3 separate regions of the Homo sapiens genome follow, and all the other regions are reported to be linked to region 1. Evidence: microRNA targets listed by miRTarBase, many of them from high-throughput screens and not tested one by one. Region 1 holds a microRNA gene; each other region holds the end of a gene's coding sequence.
The links. Region 1 holds the annotated microRNA hsa-miR-3064-3p (UUGCCACACUGCAACACCUUACA, at 2,886-2,908, shown strand). A microRNA usually pairs through its seed, bases 2 to 8, with sites in the 3' UTR of a target mRNA and lowers its output. Matches are read on the target gene's strand: a 7mer-m8 pairs with bases 2 to 8, a 7mer-A1 pairs with bases 2 to 7 and ends in A, and an 8mer does both.

Region 1 (5,265 bases):
AGCTGTTTTGGGTATTGGACAACACATGAAGAAAGGATCTGCTAGTATAATAAGTTAGCAGTTTAAAACTAGTATCCAGGTTTGTGCTGAAAGCTGTTTCTCTTTCCTTAGTGTTTGGTGCTGGCACCAACTCGGGAACTGGCCCAACAGGTGCAGCAAGTAGCTGCTGAATATTGTAGAGCATGTCGCTTGAAGTCTACTTGTATCTACGGTGGTGCTCCTAAGGGACCACAAATACGTGATTTGGAGAGAGGTATGTAATGAAAAGGGTTTTATTTGTCATTGGTGCTAAATATCCTAGGTATTGTAGTTACACTTACGTATTTAATTAAAGGTGTGGAAATCTGTATTGCAACACCTGGAAGACTGATTGACTTTTTAGAGTGTGGAAAAACCAATCTGAGAAGAACAACCTACCTTGTCCTTGATGAAGCAGATAGAATGCTTGATATGGGCTTTGAACCCCAAATAAGGAAGATTGTGGATCAAATAAGAGTAAGTGTCCTTTGAAATATGTGATCAAACTGAATTGTGTTTTCACTCTTAAGAGTCTGATACTAATTTTTCCCCCCAAAATCCATTAGCCTGATAGGCAAACTCTAATGTGGAGTGCGACTTGGCCAAAAGAAGTAAGACAGCTTGCTGAAGATTTCCTGAAAGACTATATTCATATAAACATTGGTGCACTTGAACTGAGTGCAAACCACAACATTCTTCAGATTGTGGATGTGTGTCATGACGTAGAAAAGGATGAAAAGTAAGTTTTATTAACTCTGTTATATTTGCTTCCTAACAACTTTGCTGTAAAATTGAGGGATCATTGTTTGGTGAGTTGTTTTAGGTTATTTCAGTTGGTGTGATTTCATTTAGTTAGCCTACTAATCCTGAAAATTTCTTGAATCCTTCAAATAATGGCTGTCACCATTTATAGCTTTCCTATAGAAGGAATTCATGTGTCCCCTGGTTGACTTAAGGACCAAGGGTCGAACTGCTCGATAAGTGGATTAGCAGGCGTTTCCTCTTTGACTTCCAGCCATGTAAATTGAACTTAATGTTTTGCTGACCATAAATGTGTGGCCCTAGCAATGGTCTTTTAAAACTCAGGATTTTTCCTTTCTCTCTCCTATTATTAGACTTATTCGTCTAATGGAAGAGATCATGAGTGAGAAGGAGAATAAAACCATTGTTTTTGTGGAAACCAAAAGAAGATGTGATGAGCTTACCAGAAAAATGAGGAGAGATGGGTATGTGTGAGCTCCTCCATTGAAGCAGATTGATTAAAACAGCTTAGGAAAGGGCAAACTTGGATCACGAGCAGTGGATTTTTTTCATATCTGATAGTGAATTTAACTTTTTCATTTCTGGCGAAATTAAAGAGATCTGTGACCAAAAGTGGTCAAGCACTGGAGTCTGAGGTTTTCAATGTGAGTTTAATAACACAACTTGTCTTTTAACTTAGGTGGCCTGCCATGGGTATCCATGGTGACAAGAGTCAACAAGAGCGTGACTGGGTTCTAAATGGTAAATATTTCAAATGAAGTATTTTTCCCCCTTACTTAACCTAGCTAGAATTCTGCTCAGATAATTGATCATGTATATGCCTTCCTTTGTAGAATTCAAACATGGAAAAGCTCCTATTCTGATTGCTACAGATGTGGCCTCCAGAGGGCTAGGTTAGTACAAACTCGCATTCATGGCTTGGTTTCCCAGAAGATCTCCATTTAACTTTTTTAAAGAAAGTTTATTGCTTTCTTTAACCTGCATTTTTTCTAAGTTTTTTTTCACATAAAGGTGCTGTCTTTGTGGCAAGGCCTAGGCATGACAATCGGAGGACTCGAGGGGGATGGAGGACTAGTGATCGGCTGGCTGCTTCCAGTCGATTAGAGAGGTGAAAAAGCTGAACGTGTGCCAGTAATCTTCAAAAGGCAGAACATATCACCTCTGCCCCGTAAACTGTTCTCTCCGAGGGAAAAAATGGAAGTTATCCTCACAGTTCACTGCCGTGGTATTTCTTCTGTCCCATGCTTTGCATGACTGCCATGGTACAGCCTTGTTTCAAACTGTTCACTGTGATCTGTGGGTCTTTGAGTTTCAGTGAGTTTGCTGAAATGTCGAAGAAGTAGTTCCAAACTTCAATGTTCAATGAAATTTTTGTTCAAGTTTGAAATGGAGAGAGCAGCTTTAAAAGGTACTAAGCCTTTTACAAATTGGTGAGTACTGGCACATGAGATCTAGAGCAGGAGCAACTTCTCACACATAGTAAGTGGGAAAAGAAAGTGCTTTGAAAGTTCCTCCCTCACCTACACAGTAGTCGTCATGTCGAGACCTGCCAGAGAGAGACACATTCTCAAGTGAATCCTGGCTTCTTGGAAGCGCTTGCCTAGACGAGACACAGTGCATAAAAACAACTTTTGGGGGACAGGTATGTTTTCTTGCAGCTGCGGTTGTAAGGTCTTGGCAAGACAAGCAGTGTGGCCAGAATTTTGAACTTCTGATGAATGTGTAATGCAAAGGACCTTGTACATTTTTTTGTTTCAAGGTCCTCAAAATGAGCACATGAAGAGGTTGCTGTGAAACTTTAAGTGGCCCTACTGCGCAGAAGCATTCAGATGTCACTTGATGATCTGTAAGGGAACTTGCTGATTTGGGAATGTGCTTAGGGAACACACATTCCTTTTGACAGGGTCTGTCACTGGGTGGGTGATGAATTATACAGATGACATGTGCTTTTTTTTCTTTTTTCAACCTCAATGGTATTCCTACAGGAAATGGATAACCATTTTAACTGTATTTTTTGCAGCCCGTACCTTCTTGGGAATACAATTGTCTAACTTTTTATTTTTGGTCTGGCTGTTGTGGTGTGCAAAACTCCGTACATTGCTATTTTGCCACACTGCAACACCTTACAGATGTGGAAGATGTGAAATTTGTCATCAATTATGACTACCCTAACTCCTCAGAGGATTATATTCATCGAATTGGAAGAACTGCTCGCAGTACCAAAACAGGCACAGCATACACTTTCTTTACACCTAATAACATAAAGCAAGTGAGCGACCTTATCTCTGTGCTTCGTGAAGCTAATCAAGCAATTAATCCCAAGTTGCTTCAGTTGGTCGAAGACAGAGGTTCAGGTAAGGATGACTGATAGGAAATGTTGGTAGTTACGAGTCACATCGTTGTCTACAAATCCATTTAAATGGTATTGGAGGGTGAGTAAAACCTTGAATGTGAAAACTTAAGCTGAAAAATTGTAAAAACATTTCACGCCTACCATGAATAGATCTGTTTCTTTCTGTCCACAATGATTTGTGTCATAGACATAATTGATCAATTTGCAATTGTTTTCTTGACAGGTCGTTCCAGGGGTAGAGGAGGCATGAAGGATGACCGTCGGGACAGATACTCTGCGGGCAAAAGGGGTGGATTTAATACCTTTAGAGACAGGGAAAATTATGACAGAGGTTACTCTAGCCTGCTTAAAAGAGATTTTGGGGCAAAAACTCAGAATGGTGTTTACAGTGCTGCAAATTACACCAATGGGAGCTTTGGAAGTAATTTTGTGTCTGCTGGTATACAGACCAGTTTTAGGACTGGTAATCCAACAGGGACTTACCAGAATGGTTATGATAGCACTCAGCAATACGGAAGTAATGTTCCAAATATGCACAATGGTATGAACCAACAGGCATATGCATATCCTGCTACTGCAGCTGCACCTATGATTGGTTATCCAATGCCAACAGGATATTCCCAATAAGACTTTAGAAGTATATGTAAATGTCTGTTTTTCATAATTGCTCTTTATATTGTGTGTTATCTGACAAGATAGTTATTTAAGAAACATGGGAATTGCAGAAATGACTGCAGTGCAGCAGTAATTATGGTGCACTTTTTCGCTATTTAAGTTGGATATTTCTCTACATTCCTGAAACAATTTTTAGGTTTTTTTTGTACTAGAAAATGCAGGCAGTGTTTTCACAAAAGTAAATGTACAGTGATTTGAAATACAATAAATGAAGGCAATGCATGGCCTTCCAATAAAAAATATTTGAAGACTGAATTAAGTGGAAATTGTACTTTATTTTATATAATGTCATGTAAAACTTTGCTTAAGATGGTCTGGTTTTTTTTTTGTTTTTGTTTGGTTTTTTTTTTCCATGAAAACAAATGACTGTTCCTTTTTATTTAATTTGGGAGGCAGGGGGAATCAGAAGGCCCTTCTTTATAATGAGCTATTCATATTGCAGGAGTCAGAATGAATTGATACAGGTGAATTTTTAGTTACAGGCTAAATTGCATAAAAGCTTTGTCAGCTTCCAGCATCAGGGGAGTCATTTAATAGCCTTTTTCCTTATTTGCTAGTATGGTTAAATGAGAAAATAGTAAAATAGATACAAAGTCATCTATATAGTGTGAGAACGTGGGTGACTTTTTCAAAGTTTATAATTTAAAAAGCTCCAAATAACTGGCTTTTTCAAGAGACTTATACTCATGCTCTTGGCTATACTGTGAATTACTGAAATGTTGAACAAACCTGTGAAAGACATACATTAGCCCTTTAAGATGGCCAGGAGCTAAGCTTGAGTCTCCTTTACTGAATTTCGTTCTTAGTGCAGGTTACTTGTAGATTCTAGTCTTCACAGGCTCCCTGGGGCTCTTAACTAGTCACACTGGGAGTCATGAATGTCTTTCCAATAATTCAGGGAATTCTAGAGATCCTCAAACTGTAAGGTCTATTCATACTCAACACAAGGAAAAAACCTCATTAAAATTAATGACTAATCAGGAGGCAACGTAACCAAAAGCACAGTGAATGAAAGTTTTCATGGTAGGTTCAACATGGGTTTATTGCTAGAAAGATCCAGGGGATAGCTTTAGGTTTAACTTCGGCTCACCAACGTAACTTTCTAATCATTTATTTCAGTAATAGCTAGAAGTGGGTCTGAATGTTTTCCCAGAGTCTGATACGTGTTTTTTTTTGCCAGAAGAGAGGTCTTCAGGAGACTTCATTTAAATTCTGATTATTAAACTGAGGCTTTAATTGATGTTAATGCCTTATGTCAAATGTAAAGTTAGAATTTGCTAGGGCTGGGATAGGGAGTGATATTTCTAGGACTTAGACATTGAAAACTAATTCAGCCTGTAGTAACCTGGATGGTTTTCAATGGCATGGTTAGTCAAATTCATGGTTTTAAACTTAGAAGCAGCTTTCGGGGGAGAGGGTAGGTTGGAGCATTTATTACATATTTTACTGTTTAATGT
Region 2 (5,132 bases), not on the chromosome of region 1:
AATATTGTGTTTCCTAATTGTTAACAGATCATTTTCCAGTACAAGCAGAACCAAAAATTCTTGAGGAAAACTAAGAGATTCAGGAGTTGAATGTTTTAATAAAAAGAGGTTTCACTCTCCCTGGTTCCTCATTCCCCTTTATGTGAAGATAAGTTACAAACATCATGAGGTGTTAATATGGTAGTTCCTATCATTTTAATAACCAAATTAAAAATCTGAAAATAGAACCAAACTATGGAAAAAATTATTCAGTCTATTTTTCAAACACCCTATACCTGCTTCAATGTTTAACCACATGCAAAGTGCATGCCGTTGCAGCATCTTACCTTGACTCTCTGATCTCTGCAAAGTAATAACCAGCAGTGAAGTTTTGTTGCCAGGAGTAAAGGTGCCCAGAACAATAAGTCTTTGGCCCTCTTTGAAATCTCAGGTGGGGTTACAGGAAAGCTAATGCAAAGCTATTTTTATCAACATCCAACAATTATCCAAGGTTACTTGCAAAACTTCTTGGGAGTAGTTTTGCAAGTAACCTTGCAAGGATACAGCTCTTGCTTTGAAAACTCAGACATCTTATAAAGATAAGACTTGTTAACAAAATAGAATCCACTTTCACATTTAAAAGGTAACTTGGAAATTGCTCCAGGTACCACCTAATTAACTGAAGCAGATAGGGACAAAGAAAAAAAAAAAAAAACCTCAGAAGATATCATTGTTTAAATACACTCTATTTTATTTTGTCTTAAAATAGTTTAACCTTTATGCTACAGACTTATTTCAAAAAACAGAAAATCTTATCTTGCACCAAAAAATATATATATAACACTCTGTTTTATTATTTTTTCTCCAAAGACCATTAAATACTAAAGGGAAACAAAAACGAAATAATGAATGTAAAGAACCAAATTTTGTTTTAAAAACTAGAGTTGCACATTTGAAAACATTAATTCTAAGCAATGATTTGTCATCACTGCATCAAGTCCACGCTCACACTCCAGCAACAGCAGATCCATTAACTGCCAAGTGCATTGGTTCCTAGCCATACAATGGCTAACATTTCATTTTCACGGTAAGAGGAGCAAAAGGCTTCAATGGCCTCTGTACTCTTTAAGAAACAAAACAACAACAAAAATATTTCCTAGTTATCCAGTGATTTTTTTTTAAGATCACTACCTTTTAAAATTTGTTAAGAGAATAAGAAGTAAGTAGTGTTTTAAATAAAATGAAAAAATACAACAGCATCAGACTAAAATACGTGATTATTTTAAACAAACAGTGCACAATCTGAGGAAGTTTGGTTAGGGCACAATCATTTTTATATCTACATGGAAGTCACATCATACACATATTGGAGAACAGGGATTGGGGAGCTTGCTTTGCCTTAAAAAAGTTTAAAACTAAAAGACAAAATAGTGTCCCCAGCTTTTTCAAAAACCTTTGTGACAGTATAAAAAGCAGGTAACAAACTTAGTTTTAAGTTAGTTATGGTGCTAATCTGCTAAAAGTAAAGATGAACAAATGACTACATTAGTAAACCAGACAATTCATATTCATAATTGATAATAAAAGCAAAGTTTATGGGATGTTTGATTGCCAAGAATAAACTGAATGAAATAAATTGAATAAAAAAGAATGCATTATTCATTCAGTCTGGCCCCTACCATCAAAATGAAAAGACAATTACTGGAGAGCAGCAATTACAGGTTACATGGCAGTCATGATGATGCAACAGCTAGGTCACTGCTCTGTTTTTCACAAATTGGAGGGGGTGGAAACTTAACCAAGTCAGTGGCATAAACCAATCTGTGACCCACATGTACCATTTTAGCAGAGAGATTACTCTGAAGACAATGTCCTGTGAAGCATAAAGAACTACTTATGCTACCAAATGTAAAACTTTGATTAAGAAAAACCCCTTTAAAAGAAACTTCAAATGTCACAGGAGCTGTATACCACGGAATTGTATCATTAATACCTTGCCTGAAACCACACTCTCCACTCTTCTGGAAACAGCAATGAAAAGAGAGTTGAAACACAGTCTCTCTATAGTTATTAGGGGAAATGACCCAACCTAGTAGGGGAGAGCTGTCTATCTCTACCATCCCTTCCCCTCCCCCTCTGCATCTTAATATCCAAATCTCCGTTCTGGTCCATTAAGTCAGGCAGTTGGGAGCTGGACTAGGAATAAGTGAGGCAAAAGTGCAAGCTGACATAAAGGCAAAGGGCCAGAGAAGAGACTGGTTACAGCTCCACTCTGTTCCTAATCCACAGTGCACACAGCACGCCAACTCTGTAGAGGATGACTATATTAGGGACTATGAAGAAAATATGTCACACGGGAAATCACCTGCTGTGTGGAATTGGGAAAAAAAATATGTGGTTAACATAAGAACAGGTCATGCAAAAACATTCATTAAAATGGGCCTCTGCCCTGACAGTGGGGGAAAAAATAAGCTGCAAAAACTTCAAGTCACATCATCCACTCTATTCTCTTCTCTATGAATTTCCTGGAAAACACAGACCAGAAATTGTACATTTCTGCTTTGTCTAGTATTTTAATTCAAGTCAAAAACTATGTGTAACAGTAAAATTCAATAAATTAATCCTAAAGTAAAATGTGAAGGTCCAAGGATACACCAGTAGTGAATCTTCAGAAGGTCCTACTTTGCTCTGGCCTCTGGGTCTTTGGTTTTTGTCTAGAATTGTGGCCATGTGAGAGACTGATATATGAGTTGCTAAAGCTGGAGGTTCATGATCTTAAAAGCCTTATCTAACAAAAGCAGAAAATAAAAATAAAAAAAATAAAAGCTGATGAAGGACAGAGGCCAGATCAAATGAGATGCTATCAGAGAAGATCAAAGAACATATGCACAAATACATTCCTGTGGAAGAAGGAACATACAGGAGAACTAATGCAACAAGAAGCGTAAAGGAATAAACTTGTCTTTACAAAAAAAAAAAAAAAAGAAGAAGATGAAGAAGAAGAAGAAGAACAGGCTGGGCAGGTGGAGGCAGGCAGACACTGATGCATGTGTATGTGCGGTGTGTGTCATTCATCTCAGCAGCCCCCAGAGCACCCACCCCTCACAGTGCCTTATGCAGAGCAGGCACTTGGTAAATTTGTTTGCTGAATGAAAACTGAAAATGGTAATTCTCATACTCTTAATGATAAGAAGAGCCACCAGGGGATTTGGAGAGACAGGCAAAGGGCCATAGCAACGGTAACAATGGAAACAAAAACAAAAACAAAACAAACAAAAACCATGAAAAACAAAAGGTGAAGTCTTCTAAGCCAATATTACTTCACTCCCCCTGTGCAGAGTACATAGTGTTCTAACTCTAGGTATTGCTTTTAAAAGAATTCACTAGTAACTACAACATATTATAAGAAAGAAGGTAGTAACTAATGCCACAAAATTCCAATGCTGGCATTTCCTGAATTCCCTGAAGCTCCTGCTACCCTTTGCTAATCCTTTTAGACTCTGTAAAACTTACCAATGACATTAACGTGCTTTGCATCTGATTTCTTATGGTACATTCTGATTCTTCTTATGGTATTTTTTTTTAGAAGGTAGAGGAGAAAAATACCCAAATACAGCATCAGGTCCACTTCATCTCGGATGTTAAACAGTTGTTGCTACATACTCTTTATACAGAGACCAGCTATGAAAGACGGCACTTTCCTCTCGGATTTGCAAGTGCCTGTAGCCTCAGAGGCCACATAACTTTTCATATTCTTCCCAACAGGTTTCTATGTTCACCCGTTATTTGACTAAACCAGAAAAAAAGGCGAGGGAGAGAGATTTTTCCCACTGAACTCTTAATACCTTCAGATGCCCAGAACACCTCATGGTGGGTATCTATCTGAAATGCCTCTGTCTCAAAGGAGACATTTTGCAAAGAGTTATTAATTATTGCAACAAGGAGAACAACTAGGTCACCTTAGTAGTATTTATAAACACAAAGGGACATGTCAATTATCTGTGCTGTGGGAAGTCAACAGGAGCAAACTCAAGAAAGAAGGCAGAAGACTTAAAATAAAAGAAAATATAATTTTAATACTTCTGTCTTCTATTTTTAAGGACAAGTTTTTAAATGCACATGCCCTACTAGGTGCCAATAAGGACCTGACTGATATGTGTGCGAATGCCCTAAGATGGGAGTGCCAATGGGGTGGGCAGATAGTGGTCAAGTCTAGATATTAATTTCATTATACAGAAAAATAAATACAAGATTCAAAAACTGAAACCCATTTTGCCTGGCAATTAAAATATTATTCTAAAAGGAAGGCAGAGTTTCCTAAGATTAAAAGTCACCAAGTAAAATAAAGTTGTCTAATAAAATTCATCATTCTATATTCCTACTGAGGGAAAGAAGAAATTCTTTTCTCTGTGATGTTATTTTCCTAAGTGACTTCTTTTAATTAAAAAAAGGGGGGAAGAGGAGGGAATTTTCCATGAGTTTGAATCCTACAAATGCCACAAACAGCTTCTGAAGCTGAAGCTATGACAATGAACTTCCATGTCACAAAGAGGATGAGGAAGTGGAAGGGAACAGTGCAGAGGAAACACAGTGACATTGTATTACAGTAGGTATTTACGCCTGCTATCCTCATCCAAGGTAAGGTCAACAACTTCTGCTGGTGAAGCCCAAGTCTGCTGGGGAGTCACAGCAGTCCATGACTGTGTTTGCCTGGTGCTAACATACTGCGTGCCCGAGCCATGCTTCCATGAAGAAACACTCTGAATCACACCACCTCGAGGATGAACACACCTGCAATTGAGATGAAGAACAAAAGCATGGTTAATTCCACCACAGGAAAAACAGAAGACAATATGACCTCAGTTGTACTTATCAACATTTTTACTAAGATAAACCTAGTATGCAAGTTCATAAAACCCACAATCAATATCCTTCCCTCCATCTCTGTCTCCCTCTCTCCCTACCCCACCACACCCCACTTGGTCCCTCTCTCAGTTTAGCCTTAAAAAGGCCAAGGGTCTTATCTCAGCCAGAAACTCCTGAGTTGTGTCACTGACCATGGGTGACAGGATGTTTCTCTGGACTCATTTACACCTCTGGGATCTTCATGATAGGGCAACACATAAATCCAGAACAAAGTTAAGATGCCCAAA
Region 3 (5,132 bases), not on the chromosome of region 1:
TATTCTTTAGGTTTTAAAAATATAAGGGTTATGGTATGATTTGCCATCCTACATTTATCAGTTCCTTTGACTATTAGTTAAAAACACTTTTCTACCTCTGGACTCTGTATACATCTCAGATTTCTTGGTTCTCGGGCACCAGCTATGGGTCCATTGTGAGAAATTTCCTACTTTTCAACTGTGAGCGCTCTCGGGGCCTTGCTTACATTTTTCAAGTTATCTGCAGGGATGGAATTAGTTTTTATTTGTTGTGTACAAAGTCCTTGCTTTCGGTGGTAGAATGAAATACTTAGAGAACAGTCCATGGATCTATTTACTTCCCATGACCTGTGAAGAGGAGTGATGTTGCCAGGACCTCTTTCCTGGGTTGTACCCAGAGCTGTTTTCTGCACGCTCTGAGCCTCCAGGGATGCCATCCCAATGGAGGCTAATTGATCAAGGCTGCCTGGAGAATTGTTTTGAGATAGATTCTGAGGCTTAGGCTGGGGATCATCAGAAAAGAAAATTATGATTGATAAGTGAAATCTGCTGTGGGCAAGGAAGGGTAAACTTGTACTTTACATGCCAGGAATTTTCGAATCTGTATGTGACTCCCAAGAAAGGCTTGACCTTGTAGCTTCGATTTTAATCTCCGCAGGTATAAGGATAATTCATTTTATGTTGAATAGACTGCTCTAAAGACAATTTAAATAATCTAATACCCCTGCCCATTTCCTAAGAGAGTTGTGTTGACTGTTTTATTCCCAAATAGGATCAAATTCAACCTGCTGTCATTGGTAGATCATTCTTCTTAACACACATGTAAGAATAAAAACTATTATTAGTTTGGTGATAAAGGCAGTGAAACAAACACCGAGAATAGGAGTAGAAAAATGTTCTGTGTGACCTTGGTTAAATTATGAGGCAAATAAGTTGAAATATCTCCAGATACATTCTCGCTCAAATATGCCAGTTTTCAATAATTTATTGAAATCATATAAATTCTGAAACAGATTTTTAAAATACTTTAATAATGGGATATCTTAATTATTTGATGGGAAGTATTTTTTAAAATTACACTCCTATTGTCCTAAATTTATGAAAAAAAATGAATGTTCAATGCAGAACACTTGCATAAATACACACACTTTTTAAAAAAGGTACCTTTATGCATTTTGCTCTGCCCTTAGGCACTCTTTTTCCAATCTAGAATATATTTCTGGATGTTTTTCAATTGACAATAAAATTACTGGAGTACACGCATGTTTTATTGTGTTTGTGTGTGTCTATGGACTGGATCACAAGGTATACCAGATGTATTTCTAGTGGGCCATGGTAAATATAGTCTGAAAGTCACCATTCTGACCATACCCCTCTCAAAATCACAGAGCCTTGGAGAAGAGAAGAACAGTTTCTTGCTGCGTACTGACTTGGCACATACCATCAGTCGCAATCAGGCCAGATCTATGTGCTGCTTTATTTTCACAGTTCAAGTAAAGCTGTGGAAAAAGTCTGAGCAGCAGTAGTAGGCAAGGTCTGTGCCACACACGGAAGCAGAACGCAAAATGCATTCCACACACATAGAAGTGTGACACAAAAGTTTGAGCATTTACCTGTATGAATGCCCCAGTCTGTGTCCACCGCTTCTTTGCTCTGAGTGATGCTCACCCATGCCCCCCTAGTCCCAATTCCTTGAACCACACATATAACTTATTACATGTCATGGTCATGTGTGACTCCAACCAGGTTGCAATAGCTGCAGTGATTTTCAGATTTTCCCTGCTTTCTAAAGAGAAGTGAGATCATAGCATGTTTTCACTAATCAGTGATTTAGGTAGACAGATGACATTTGGGGGTGACAATAACTAGATTTATAAATGCTACAAATCCGACCCATAGAAATAAGAAAGTGACTGGAGTCAGAAGGTCAAGGAGCACCTGTCACTTTCCCAGCAGGGCCCAACCTGCAGTCTCTTTTATGGCTACAAGCTGGAGGTCAGGATCTGAACTGAACAGGAGTAAGAGAAGAGGGACTTCCCAGGGGGGCTCAGATAGTTCACTGGGTGTACCTGAGATCTCACTATCTGCAGACTTGTATTGTTATAAAAATAAGTGAATACTTAACTGCCACGGTGGGATAGCACATAAAGAGAAAAACATACTTAGGTAGTTTTAAGGAATGGGAAGGGGTGAAATATAGTCATCCCCTGATATCTGCAAGGACTGGTTCCAGGACAACTTCTCCAACCCCCAACCTGCAGATACCAAAATCTGTGGATGGTATACTTAAGTCCCTGATATAAAATGATGTGGTATTTGCATATAACCTATGTACATCCTCCCGTATATGTTACATCATCTTTAGATTACTTAAAATCCCCAATACAATATAAATGCTAAGTAAACAGTTGTTGTACTGTATCGTTTAGGAAATAATGACAAGAAAAATGTCTGTCTGTGTTCAGTACAGATGCAACCATTCTTTTCTTTACAAATATTTTCAATCCATGATTGATTGACTGAATGTATGGATGTGGAACCCACTGATACAGAGGGCTGACTGTAATAAAACCAGCACCTAGCGCTGTATGAAAGGTTAGCACTCCCCTTGACAAGAATGGAAGAGGCCCTCGGGCCTGACAACACACATATGGTTAAAACTAGCACCTAACTCCTCAGTAGCCTGGCAGGAACTGGGAATGGTGGCCTATGTTTTAAGAGAACCCCTTCTGTGGGCCCCCAATGGCTACAGCCTGATACTCAGGTGATGGTGTGAGATAAGCCTCAGTGCTTTTTTTTATCCCCTGTCCCCCAATATTTACTAAGCTTCAGGAAACTATATTCTTTTTTGATAAGTATCCATTTATTAACACTGGTAACATTTTCAGGGCACACAGAACATGCATTCTTTGGTAGCAAAATTTTAAAATCACAGATATATTTCTTTTATATATTATGAATATATTTCTAGTAAGGAATATATAACTAGTCTTCAGAAACTGAAGATGGAAACATAGCTAAGCCTCAACTTCCGGTCAAGCAGAAAGTAATGAAAAGTGCCGAAAATGCCACAGTCACATGGGCCACTGCTCCTTAAATGCCACAATCACGCGGGCCACTGCTCCTTTCATTCTCTACAGACAACCTGAGTCTCACACTGTCATAGCACCAAGAAGAAAACAGTTACTTTCACTTTTCTTATAGCAACATAGGGATTTGTGTACATAAAACATGTTGGACAGGTTCTCCTTCAATCATGGTTTGTATGTCAACAGTTGGTTTCATAAAACAGAGAAAGGTGGAAAGAAGATAGAAGATGGTCTCTTTACAAAAGAAAGGTGAATACATTTCGATGCACCAGGTTGTTTAGGCTAAGTCAGTAACTGTGTGTATTATCAGCCCTATGACTGCTAAGTGTCAATATTTAGAATTTCAGTGTGGGAAAGAACCTCAGACACCATCAGTCCAACCGCTTCCATTTTACAGCTAAGGAAAAGGGTCCGGAAACTTAGGTGAATATCAGACTGGGATGAGAACGCAGGCTTTGGAGTTAGGCTCCTTAGTATATGAAGTTCATGTATCCCCATAGACAAACTCATTTTCTGGTAATATGAATACACTTCTGGATGAACCAACAGTTTTTCAGTCTAAGGTATGTCAGAAACGAATTCAATTTTTATGCTTAAGTTTCCTCTGCACAGCTTTCTCCATTTAGGTTGTGATGATGATGCAGACTGTTACCCCCTCTAGACTTTTGCATTCTTACTTTTGAATTTGGGGGTTAATGTGTGAGTAGGGCTCCACGAATCATCATTTATCTTTCACATCATTTCTCTTTCCACCTATTGCTAACTACCTATTTTTAAATTTAACAATTAGGTCAATGATTCTTGATTTATTTAAGACAATACCAAAGACAGTAATAAGGTCAGAGTGACCTGGTGCACTTCTAACACCCCAATCTGAAAGGAATTTTTTTTCAGTATAAGATAATATATATCATATACAGAAAACTAATACTAAAAGGTACTCAGAGGTAGCCCTTGTTGTTAGACATTTAAGGATGTTCTAGACTCCAAGAGGAACCTCAACAGTTTTCTCTGATTCAAATTAAAAACAATTTTCTAGGATAAATGGAATGATTAATAATGTAAGAAGAATAATCAGTACTGAATTGTATAGTGGAATGATTCCCATTAGGTTCCAACCGAATATAATAGAGCTTATTTGCTTTCTTAGCATGTATCTTTCCCACTACTATAAAATTGAGATCTGTCATTTATAATGTTACCTGTATTATCTAAACACTAACATCTTTAAACCCAGTGGGCTTCCCCTAGAGAGGTTTAGATTCTTGCAAACCCAGGTGAATCGTTCTTGTTGAGCAATGAACTGTTGAGAAATGAGATAAGGCAGAGGCACACTTATGGATGCCAGTCAACAGGTTAGCTTTTGATGGCCATGGTCCAGAGGAGTGGGTGGTCAGTTTCCACAGTCACAACACCAGACCCGTCGTAGGTATTGGAAGTACTGACCAATGTTCCAAAAGCAAGCACATCATTTGCTGTAAGAAAATAAGGGAAAAAAATTAGTAACTATTTTTTTTCTTCCTCCAGTGTAGATTAACTTTGTCACTTACCAAAAAGCAAGTACACACTTTGATAAAAATATATATAAATGTGGGATAGGTGAAATATATGATGTATGGCTTTAAAATGGGTAAGTTCTATAACTTGCTGTAAACATTCTTCCTGGAATTGGTTATTGACCATTTTGGGTTATATATCATTCTCAATATTAAATTTTATTAGAATCTTTTCTTTTTCTTTACTAATTATAAAACCAAAACCTGTATTTGTAATGTGCTACTTACTTCCTTCCCTGGGTACAATTTTAGTTTCTCTTGATAATTCAGAATTAAAATTTAATATGTTATTACACTCTACAGAATGTAGTTTTAGCTTCAAGTAGAAATGATATGAGACAGATAGAAAATTACCTAAAAAAATGCATGTGATTTTGGTTACTGTTTTCTCATAAAGTAAGAAAAGCCAAAGTGAATACAGCTTACATTCTGTAAAATTAATAGAAACTCAAAGGTCAAAGCCGACTTTCAAATGTGTAATCTTGAGCAAGTCACTTAAGCTCAGCCA

Region 2: the mRNA of ARK2N is a reported target of hsa-miR-3064-3p. Seed matches in the 3' UTR shown: 7mer-m8 at 4,474-4,480 and 7mer-m8 at 3,405-3,411.
Region 3: miRTarBase lists TPK1 as a target of hsa-miR-3064-3p. Seed matches in the 3' UTR shown: 7mer-m8 at 3,078-3,084 and 7mer-m8 at 3,046-3,052.

What each region holds. Positions count from the first base shown.
Region 1 is chr17:64,498,418-64,503,682 of GRCh38, reverse strand. MIR3064 (microRNA 3064) reads left to right here and starts at 2,844; the gene lies at 2,844-2,909. DDX5 (DEAD-box helicase 5) reads left to right here. Exons shown (of 13, transcript NM_004396.5): 6 at 112-253; 7 at 335-495; 8 at 585-757; 9 at 1,134-1,244; 10 at 1,460-1,521; 11 at 1,614-1,673; 12 at 2,910-3,134; 13 at 3,357-5,265. The coding sequence ends at 3,760. MIR5047 (microRNA 5047) reads left to right here and starts at 2,370; the gene lies at 2,370-2,469.
Region 2 is chr18:46,262,567-46,267,698 of GRCh38, reverse strand. ARK2N (arkadia (RNF111) N-terminal like PKA signaling regulator 2N) reads right to left here. Exons shown (of 5, transcript NM_145055.5): 5 at 707-4,770. The coding sequence ends at 4,581. Among named protein-coding and RNA genes, the nearest start is that of ARK2C, 69 kb to the left of the region's middle.
Region 3 is chr7:144,449,121-144,454,252 of GRCh38, forward strand. It overlaps TPK1 (thiamin pyrophosphokinase 1), which reads right to left. Exons shown (of 9, transcript NM_022445.4): 9 at 2,821-4,543. The coding sequence ends at 4,425. It also overlaps the pseudogene RNU6ATAC40P. Among named protein-coding and RNA genes, the nearest start is that of NOBOX, 48 kb to the left of the region's middle.